2 separate regions of the Homo sapiens genome follow, and region 1 is reported to be linked to region 2. Evidence: microRNA targets listed by miRTarBase, many of them from high-throughput screens and not tested one by one. Region 2 holds a microRNA gene; the other region holds the end of a gene's coding sequence.
The links. The annotated mature microRNA hsa-miR-4999-3p reads UCACUACCUGACAAUACAGU and lies in region 2 at 1,280-1,299, shown strand. An mRNA with a match to its seed (bases 2 to 7 or 8) in the 3' UTR can be bound and repressed. Matches are read on the target gene's strand: a 7mer-m8 pairs with bases 2 to 8, a 7mer-A1 pairs with bases 2 to 7 and ends in A, and an 8mer does both.

Region 1: miRTarBase lists MARCHF4 as a target of hsa-miR-4999-3p. Seed matches in the 3' UTR shown: 7mer-m8 at 4,846-4,852.

The regions. Positions count from the first base shown.
Region 1 is chr2:216,254,332-216,259,645 of GRCh38, forward strand. It overlaps MARCHF4 (membrane associated ring-CH-type finger 4), which reads right to left. Exons shown (of 4, transcript NM_020814.3): 4 at 3,534-5,314. The coding sequence ends at 4,981. Among named protein-coding and RNA genes, the nearest start is that of LINC01963, 40 kb to the left of the region's middle.
Region 2 is chr19:8,385,287-8,390,609 of GRCh38, reverse strand. MIR4999 (microRNA 4999) reads left to right here and starts at 1,230; the gene lies at 1,230-1,320. It overlaps RAB11B (RAB11B, member RAS oncogene family), which reads right to left and starts at 250. Exons shown (of 5, transcript NM_004218.4): 1 at 154-250. The coding sequence starts at 193. RAB11B-AS1 (RAB11B antisense RNA 1) reads left to right here. Exons shown (of 3, transcript NR_038237.1): 1 at 1-601. LOC124904632 (a long non-coding RNA gene) reads right to left here. Exons shown (of 2, transcript XR_007067128.1): 2 at 2,451-4,446. RefSeq lists silencers at 1-117, 337-618 and an enhancer at 388-587.

The DNA of each region.
Region 1 (5,314 bases), not on the chromosome of region 2:
ATGGTGGGATGAGTAGGTACTGAGCTAGCCCACTGACCACCAGCCAAGGCAGCCCAGACCCTGAACGAGGCCAGTTCCTCACACTTGGAGTCATTCCGGAGTTTCACTCTACTGTCCACAGCACCCCAAGGATTGCCTAGTTTCCATATTCTATTCTACCAATAAGGGGGGTGAGAAAGTGTGGGGAGAAGGTTTTGGGACTACTGCATCAATGCTGTGGCAGGATAATTTGAGGAAAGGTAGCGAGGAACAATACAATATGCGTTTTTCCTCCCACCCCCGCTGCCCTCTCACCTCCACAATACAAGAAATTCTGCTTACGAACACACAATTATCCTTAGAAATTGGTTATGGTCCTATCAAACCATGCCCCTACCCTCTGCCATACATCCGGATCTCACAGGCAAAACAAATAACAGTTATCTCATAGAGACTAAAACAATTCTATGATTTTGGAGTTTCTATGTTCTAAGATGGTGACACCTGATTTTCCTGAGAGGTAGGGACAAGACCTCATATTTGTGGGGTTCTCCTAAATGCTGTGGACTGTGACTAGAACCCCCAACCTGCCACTCCACACCACTCATTTGGAACCAGTGCCAAAAGTCTAATATCCAAAGAGGATAATTTTTTATTTTTATTTTTTAATTGGGAGGAGAGGCCTCTGTGAACCTATATGAATCTTGGCTCTTTCCCCATAAAAATATGATTGAACTATTCCTATTGCCCTTTCAGAATTCCATTGTTCTCAAATATAACCAACCCGCTATTATATAGGCTTCATTCAACCATGATATTATCTGGATATAACAGCAAGAATTGTCATGTAAACTCAGCTTTTTTTTCTGTAGGGGACATAAATCATTTATTTGTATTTACCCCAATCTCCAAAGCTTTCCTGTAGATCTCTCACATTCTAATCTCCCTGGTTGACCTGATCCAGATTTTCCTTAAATTGGCTGGTTGTCTTGAGGAAATGTGACAGAGTGGTTATGCTGAAAGCCAGATTGCTGGCCAGGCACGGTGGCTCACACCTGTAATCTCAGCACTTTGGGAGGCCGAGGTGGGCATATCACCTGAGGTCAGGAGTTCGAGACTAGCCTGGCCAACATGGCAAAACCCCGTCTGTACTAAAAATACAAAAATTAGTCGGGCATGGTGGTGGGTGCCTGTAATCCCAGCTACTTGGGAGGCTGAGACTGGAGAATCGCTTGAACCCAAGAGGCAGAGGTTGCAGTGAGCCAAGATTGTGCCATTGCACTCCAGCCTGGGCAACAAGAGTGAAACTCTGTCTCAAAAATAAATAAATAAATAAATAAGCAAGCCAGATTGCAGGGGATGGGATCCTGGCTGGTGACTGTAGGCACGTTACTTAACCTCTTGGCCTCAGCGTCCACATCTGCAAAATGAAGATAAGAATGGTATCTGTTTCATCAGGTTGCTGGACTGTTAAGTGAATTAATACATATAAAGCATTCCATTTGGTGCCTTGCACATAGTAAGAACTTCAGATGTTAGCTAGTATATTGCCCCATACATGGGTCATACTTGCAGATGATGTGCAAGTGAACTCTGCGCTACTTTTCATTACTCTGCATTAAATAATTCCACAGGAAATATAGACATTTGCCTCATGGTATGAAAGATGATCTGCACATCTGATAGAGGGCAGTGATCTCTGGTCATCAGTGTGTACTTTTACCTTGCTTCCCAGAGACGCATACAAAATATAAAACCCCAATTCATTCATTTCTGTACCCATAAATTCAACTCCCCAAGGCACTGGGAAATTACCATCCTGTTGGGTGGAGAAGTCAGAACTTGACCTTTCTTTTCTACTCTGTGATTGACCTTGTGTGTTAGAGCATAAGTTGAAAGAAGAGGAGGCGTGTCTCCTAGATGCTGAACGTACTCTTGCACTCTTCCAAGAGTGTCTTACTCATTCAAAAATATTCATTGAGAACCTACTGTGTGCCAGGTACTGCTGTGGGTCCTGAAAATACAGCAGTAAACAAGGCAGATGAGGTCTTTGTTCTCTTGGAGCTTGCATTATCAAGATCCAATAAACTCCAGCATCCTACAAGAGTTTATTATTAATTGCCTCTTCTTCTTCAGTACAACATATTCAAATGATGACCTTCAATGGCTGCAAGAGTCTAAAGAGCCTTGTGAACCACCAAAGAAAAACAACATCATGGCCACTATAGTTTTGATGATATGCATATTTTGTTGTATTATAATACCTTTTTTTCTTTTCTTTTTTTTTGAGACCGAATCTTGTTCTGTCACCCAGGCTGGAGTGCAGTGGTGCAATCTCGGCTCACTGTAACCTCCGCCTCCTGGGTTCAAGTGATTCTTCTGCCTCAGCCTCCCAAGTAGCTGGGATTACAGGTGTGTGCCACCATGCCTGGCTAACTTTGTATTTTCAGTAGAGATGGCGTTTCACTACATTGGCCAGGCTGGTCTCGAACTCCTGGCCTCAAGCAATCCACCTGCCTTGGCCTCCCAAAGTGCTGGGATTACGGGCATGAGCCACTGTGCCCAGCCTTTTTTTCTTTTTAGAATTGGGGTCTTGCTATGTTGCCCAGGCTGGCCTCAAACTCCTGGGCTCAAGTGATTTTCCTGCCTTAGCCTCCCAAGTAGCTAGGACTAAAGCATGTGCCACTGCAACCCACTCTGTAATACTTTTTTGAAAACAGATAGTCCATATAACACATCTATAGCCTCCATAAATGTTTATTTAAACTGAAAGCCCTGTTCCTAGACCATATTGAAAAATAAACATGCTTCCTCTACATGGTTTATTTGCACAGTGTGATTGGTTTTCATTTGTTTGTATGTTTTCCTTGTATGTGTCCTTCGGTCTCTCTCCAAGTGTGTCTTTCTTAATTCTCTGGATTTTGAGCTTCATCAGGGAGGAAGCTTTCTAAGCCTATGCACACCCGACTGATGTCATTGCCTGACCCACAGCCAGCCCCAGGGTGGGAGGGCCAGATTAAGTTGAAGGGAAAAAAAGATCTTGTCTGCTGCCTCATAATATGTCCAAGCCTTCTCATGAGGTCTTAACGTGGGTGCTGTCCTCTGATAGTCAAAGGACACTGTCAGGGCAATGAGGTCCTAACACTCCTCTCCTGTGTGTGGCTTTCCCAGCCTCTGTGAAATGACCAGATGAAGTGGAGCTCTCCAAACTGCCCCCAGCACCCATGGTCTCTGCTTCTAGGATTCCTGGGCAGAATCCTTGGGAGAGCCTGGGGCCTGAAGGACTCTGTCTGCTAGGATGCCAAGAAGAGGCCAGGAGTTTACTGCAGATTCACACACAGGCACACAGAAGGGAACATCCCTGCCTATCCTGCCCTGTCCGTGCCCTCAGAGGAGAAATGAAAACGTGCCTGATTTCTTGTGATGGGGGAGAATCTATCCCTTGGAGAATGCTCCAAGGGATGGAGCAGACACAGGGAGAAAGAAGGCTGTTTACACCACAGAGGGAGGATAGGGAAGAGGAAGAAAAACTCGCATATGGAAAGGGACACTAATGGTAGGGAAAGAAGTTTTATTTTCAAGCTTTTAAGAGAATATTACAAACAACAGAGAGTTTTAAAAAACCCTAAAAACTAGTTTAAAAAAGTACTTGACAGTGTCCTTTTAATACCCATGGATGACGCGACCACTGTGCAGTGACAACCAGAAACTTTGCAGGTGAACACCCAGTGGCCTTCCCTGGCAGGGTCCCCAGAGCGAGCAGGAGGGGTCCAGGGGTAGTGCTCCCTGCCAGGCACCCTTGGGCCCACCTGGCTACGCGGGAAGGAGCAGGGAGCACAAAGCACTGAGCATCAGCCTGACTGCCTCTTTGGGGAGGGTTCCAAACAGGGAGGGTTCCAAGCAGCAAGGAATACTTAGATTGGGCTCTACTCCACTCCTTGGGGCACACTGGTCAAGCTCCTCCCAACCACTGCAGCTGCTCTCTTGGAAGCCCGTAGGTCAGGGGTGCCCTACCGTGAGGGGACTGGGTCTGTGCATGTGCCAAGACAAGAAGGGGCTGGCATTGCACATGTCCTGGCCATGGTGGGGTTGGGTAGTTGGGAAAGTTGCTCCGGGATTGACAGCTTCCAAAGCTGAAGCCACAGCAGCAGAACTGTGCTTGAAATATCCACTGGAAATCTGTACTTTTCTCTAGGGGTGTGTGTGTGTGTGTGTGTGTGTGTGTGTGTGTGTGTCCTGTAAACATCTTTGAACCAAATCACTATAAAATAAATTAACAAGGGCACAGAAGGACACCCTTTTCCAAACCTAAGCCCTCTTTTAGCCCACCTGAAATCGGGAGTTCCATTTGGAAGTTCCTTCAGGAAGGAGACACACTCTCCCTCTGGCTGCTCACACCAGCATATCCCTCCCTGAGCATCCCTCCCTGACCATCCACCCCACCATCCCCACAGCCATTTGTCAGCGAATCTTGCCCATCCAAATGAGCCCAGGAGCCCCAAAGGCAGTGTGTCCCTGCCAGCTCACCCGTGCCTCCTCCTTTTCTGGCTGCCTGCAGAACACAGCCCCAGGAGAAACAAAACCAAACAGGGTGAGAGCAGAGCAGACCACAGATGCTTTTCCTCTTGGCCCCCTTGGCCTCCGGCACTGCCACAGTCACACAGGCTTTGCCTGCCCTCAGCCTCTGCTTCTTCGGGTACCTTGCCTGCAGGTGCATTGGGGCAGGGTTTTTCTGTTGGGCCAGGTTCAGCCTGTATTGCACTTTGTTGTTGAGTTGGTGTTGGTTTTCATTGTTGTTGTGGAGAGTGGCATTGACTGATTGGAAATAGCAGAACTGCTCCTGCACCAGCCTCACTCCCGCTCTGACACTACCCCAGGGCTCCCGCCAGGTCCCCCACCCTCTGCCTGCTCCCTCTGTTGGCTCTGGGGGTGCCACTGCACCTCCCCACCCTGCTCCGGGCCCTCAGTGGTGGTCATGGCCTTCCTTCCGGGCCTCTGCTCTCACACTGTCGTGACTCTCATGACCAGCTCTCGGCTGCTGCCTGGGGGACTTCGCTGTTCATGAGGTCTCAAGTGACTCAGGATGTGCAGGATGGTATAAGCACAGTGGTGATGGGACAGAGGGCCTGAGGGGTGGCCGGCAGCCTGGGCAGGGCCCTGCTCAGGGGCAGGGGTGCCTGCGGTCTCCTCTTCCGAGGAGGGGATATTGGCCTGGGTGGATGAGGAGGTCCGGGGGTTGGTCCTGCCTCCTGCCTTTTGATCCTCCAGGTCTTTTGTCTTGTCATAGTTCAGCACTTTCCACTGCTGGTTGACAGCCTGCCACCGTTTAAAGATG
Region 2 (5,323 bases):
GCCCGGTCGGCTCCGGCCTTCCCGGCTGCCTGACCCGCCGGGCCCCAAGCCCCGGGCTCCGGCCTGGGCCCAGCGGCCTGGAGCGCGGCCTTGGCCCGTCTGCCCGCCGCCTCGCCGCCACGACTTCGCCCGTCTGTGCCCCACCGGCCGCACCTTTGAATAGGTAGTCGTACTCGTCGTCCCGGGTCCCCATTGTCCTGGCGCTTCCGGCGGGATCGGCGACTCCGCAGCCCCACCACAAACACCCGACGGGGGCGGAGCCGGCGCCGCGCAGAGCGGCGGTTGAATGGCCTATCAGCGGCGAGTGGAGTAGCGACGGGCACCCAGCGAAGCCAATCAGAGATGGAAGTAGTGCTCTGAGGGTGGGCGCCGCTTGGTACCACCCTCCTCGCCCTCGGTGTCCTGGAGAAAGGCGGAAGGAATGCGGACCTTTTTGAAGTGACGGACGCGCCAGCCTATCAGGGGCGAGCTCAAGAGGGCGGGGCGGAAGACTGCAGGAATGAAATGGATTGACAGACCAAATAACTAATGAGAGGCTTGATTGAGAACCTACCCGACTATCAGAGGACCTGTCCGGGAAGAGAAATGGGGCTACGTCCAGGTAATGCTACGATGCTTAACGTCCCGATGACGTCATAGGTCAGCGCGCGCTGCCCTGGTCGCCCCCCAAGCCCATAAATGACCATTTCCGGGGACCTCAGCGCTGGGTCCCCTTTCTCGGTTGCAGTCTCCATCTCTATATTGGGACTCACTGGGTTATCCTTCTGTGCCTCAGTTTCCTCCTCTGTAAACTGAAGAAACCCGTCTCATGGAATCTTTTGAAAATAACCAGATCAGCCAGGCGCGGTGGCTCACGCCTGTAATTCCAGGACTTTGGGAGGCCGAGGCTGGCGGATCACGAGGTCAGGAGTTCGAGACCAGCCTGACCAACATGGTGAAACCCCGTTTCTACTAAAAATACAAAAATTAGTCGGGCGTGGTCGCTGGTGCCTGTAAACCCAGCTACTCAGGAGGTTGAGGCAGGAGAATCGCTTGAACCTGGGAGGTGGAGGTTGCAGTGAGCCGAGATTGCACCAAGTGTGAATCAACCGTCCACTTTCTGCTATTCTTTGTTAAATAAATACTTTTAAATCCTTACTGGATACCAATGCTCTCCAACAGGACCTCCTACCACTACCCCTCTTTTGTCCTATATTTTGCCACATAGGTAAAATATAAAAATAGGTAATATAGAAAATAAAACACATACTGCTGTATTGTCAGGTAGTGATAGGATTTATCACTACCTGACAATACAGTATGTGTTTGTTTTATATATTTAGGGTGTACAGCGTGTGTTTTGATACACATGTACCCAGTGAAATAATAATTATGACAGTTTTTTTTTTTTTTTTTGAGACGGAGTTTTGCTGTCGTTGCCCAGGCTGAAGTGCAATGGTGTGCTCTCGGCTCACTGCAGCCTCTGCCTCCCGGGTTCAAGCGATTCTCATGCCTCAGCCTCCCGAATAGCTGGGATTACAGGCATGCACCACCATGCTTGGCTAATTTTTTTGTATTTTTAGTAGAGACGGGGTTTCTCCATGTTGGTCAGGCTGATCTCGAACTCCTGACCTCAGGTGATTCGCCCACCTTGGCCTCCCAAAGTGCTGGGATTACAGGCATTTTCACCACACATGGCCAATTATGAGAGTTAAGCAATTAACCTATCCATTGCCTTCCATAATTAACTGTGTGTGTAGTGAGAGTATCTAAAATGTACTTTCTTGGCAAATTTTCAATATACTATGCAAAATTATTAACACAAAGTATACGTTACTTTTTGTTTGTTTGTTTTGGCTGGCTGCGGTGGCTTATGCCTAAAAACATGCCCTTTGAGGAGGCTGAGGTGGGAGGATCACTTGAGGCCAGGAGCTAGAGACCAGCCTAGGCAACATGTCAAAACCCAGTCTCTCAAAAAAAAAAAAAAAAAAAGAAAAAAAGGAAAAAAAAGAGAAAAGGAAAAAAAAGAAAAGAACAACAACAAAAATTAGCCAGATGTGGTGCATCATGCCAGGGTCCCAGATACTTGGGAGGCCAAGGCGGGAGGATCATTCGAGCCTGGGAAATCGAGGCTGCAGTGAGCCATGATCACCCCACTGCACTCCAGCTTGGGTAACAGAGCAAGACCCTGTCTCAAAAAAAAAAAAGCCTTGCTTTCCTGACCCATTGATCTGTTTGTTTTTTGTCCTCTGTCAGCAGCATATCAGCCTGATGACATCAGGGACTGTATCTGTCCCCATCATTGCTGTAAGTTCCCCACTGCTGAATAAATACGTTTATTTATTCAGTGGTGAATAATCTAAGCCTAGAGTCAATGTACTAGTTATTAGAGCAGATGCCATTATCGCCTCTTGGATCTCATTCCCAGGGTGTTCATTGGGCATCTGTCAAAAAAACAAAATTACAACACATTTAGTTTAAAGATCTTAATTGATTTTATTTGCAATTCTACAATCGGGCAACACTTCATTTCACAAAATGAAACTAATTTTCCCATGAGCTGAGCAGGTAGGTTGGTTTTACAGGCAGAAAAAGGGCCAAGTAAAGCACAAACAGAAAATAAAACGTGGAGGTCAGGTGCAGTGGCTCATGCCTGTAATCCCAGCACTTTGGAGGCCGAGGCAGGCAGATCACCCGAGGTCAGGAGTTCGAGACCAGCTTGACCAACATGATAATGATGATGAAACCCTATCTCTACTAACAATACAAAAATATTAGCCGGGCGCGGTGGCAGGTGCCTGTAATCCCAGCTACTCAGGAGGTTGAGGCAGGAGAATCACTTGAACCAGGGAGGCGGAGGTTGCAGTGAGCGAAGATCACACCATTGCACTCCAGCCTGGGAGAGCAGAGCAAAACTCCGACTCAAAAAAAAAGAAAAAAAGAAAAGAAAACTTGGATTGGTCATTTTAAAGTTTCCTTTTGGAGTCTGAGTCTTGCTCTGTCACCCAGGCTGGAGTGCAGTGGTGCGATCATAGCTCACTGCAACCTCAACTTCCTGGGATCAAGCAATCTTCCCACCTCAGCCTCCTGAGGAGCTAGGATCACAGGTGTGTGCCACCATGCCCAGCTAATTTTTTTTTTCCAGAGACAGGGTCTTGCCTTGTTGGCCAGGCTGGATTTGAACTCCTGAACTCAAGCAATCCTCCTGCCTTGGCCTCCCAAAGTGCTGGGATTACAGGCATGAGCCACCACCGCACTCAGCCCAAAGTTACTTTTCTTGTAAAGGTTAAAGCAGAGAGGACATCCTTATCATGATGGCTAAAACTGACCTGGTGGGAGACTTGGCTATCCCATCTCTCTCTCTCCTGATTTTGTAGAAGGTCAGATAAACAACTTAGTTTCTTTTTGATCACGTAAAACTTTAGCATGAGTGACTCCATTTTGGTTTAGTTTGTTGGGCCTGGTGTAGGAAGTCAGTCCAAAGTAATAGCCTCCTATAAGTTTTGTATAACACATCCTGTGTCCAGATTGGTGGGTTCTTGGTCTTGCTGACTCCAAGAATGAAGCCACAGACCCTCCGGTGAGTGTTACGGTTCTGAAAGATGGTGTGTCCAGAGTTTGTTCCTTCTGATATTCAGACATGTCTAGAGTTTCTTGCTTCTGGTGGGCTTTTGGTCTCGCTGACTTCAGGAGTGAAACTGCAGACCTTTGCGGTGAGTGTTACAGCTCATAAAGGCAGTGCGCACCCAAAGAGTGAGCAGCAGCAGGATTTACTGGGAAGAGTGAAAGAACAAAGTTTCCACAGCATGGAAGGGGACCCAAGCACGTTGCCGCTGCTGGCTGCGGTGTCCTGCTTTTATTCCCTTATTTGGCCCCACCTACATCCTGCTGATTGGTCCATTTTACAGAGAGCTGATTGGTCCACTTTACAGAGTGCTGATTGGTCCGTTTTACAGAGTGCTGATTGGTCCGTTTTGACAGAGTGCTGATTGGTGCATTTACAAACCTTTAGCTAGACACAGAGTGCTGATTGGTGCATTTACAATCCTTTAGCTAGACAGGAAAGTTCTCTAAGTCCCCTACGCGATTAGTTAGACACAGAGCGCTGATTGGTGCATTTACAAACCTTTAGCTAGACACAGAGCGCTGATTGGTGCATTTGCAATCCTTTAGCTAGACAGAAAAGTTCTCCAAGTCCCTACTCAACCAAGAAGCCCAGCCGGCTTCACCTCTCAATCACCCCTCTAAACAGAACACCCCAACTGCTGTTGGGAATTTGGCCGATGACCACTCTAGCTACTTCCTGCTGGAAGAAGGGGCCCTGCAATTGTAGTGTCCTCCAGAGGGGAACTCTTTAGGCCAGTGGAAGGGCCAGTGGGTCGGTCCAGGGGTCCTCAGTAGAAGTTGTTAGTTGAACTCATTTGGGGTTCCATTTTTAAGACCATCTGTAGCTTGATGGCCTCGATTCTAGAAGAAACAAATTTGACAAGAAGGTTAAAAATGCAGGGCCCAAAGGTGAGTAAGAGCAAGATGGCTGCCACAGGACCTAGGGGAGAAGCCATGTTGCCCAACTCCAGAGGTTGGTATTAGAGTTCGAAAGGCATTGTCTGATTTCAGAAGCCTTTTCCTGTAAATGCCAGGTGGCATCTCGTGCTATCCCTGACTGTTTAGTGTAAAAACAACACTCTTCCCCTAAGAAGGTGCAGAGTCCTCCTTTCTCAGCAGTGAGGAGGTCTAGGCCTCAGTGGTTTTGGAGAGTTGCTGCTGCCAAAGAGTATATTTGGGATTGTAGAGTAAGGATAGATTTTGTTATTTCTTACAAACTGTCTGAGAAATCCTTTGAAGGTGTATGGTAGTAGAATAATGAAGTGGATAAACTGGCTATTCCGGTTCCTGTAGCAGTAGCCATTCCTAACCCTATAAGTAGGGATATTAGTTGTATGGCCCTGCGCTGATAGACTTGAGCTTTGAGGGGCACAGATACGGTCTGATTTCCATAAGATTAGAAGTTAGGATAATACATGTTACACTGTTAACTTTTTTAGCAAACTTTACTTTTGTTGAAAACCTTGTAAGTTTGGGATTTCAATTATTCTTTGCTATTAGTAAGACCTTGTTCAGTCCATATTAACTTAGAATTGGTATAGATGGCTGCTTCCTGATTCTGTAAGTACTTTAAGATTTGGCTGAGTGGAAACAACTGGCATGTTTGAGCAGACCAATTATTAGGCAATTTTCCTAACTCTGCATCTACAAGAGTTTCCTTATCACTTACTGAATACCCATTGTGTCTTTTTCCCTTAATCGCCTGGGAGGAACCATCTATCATCCTGTCCTGAAGGGA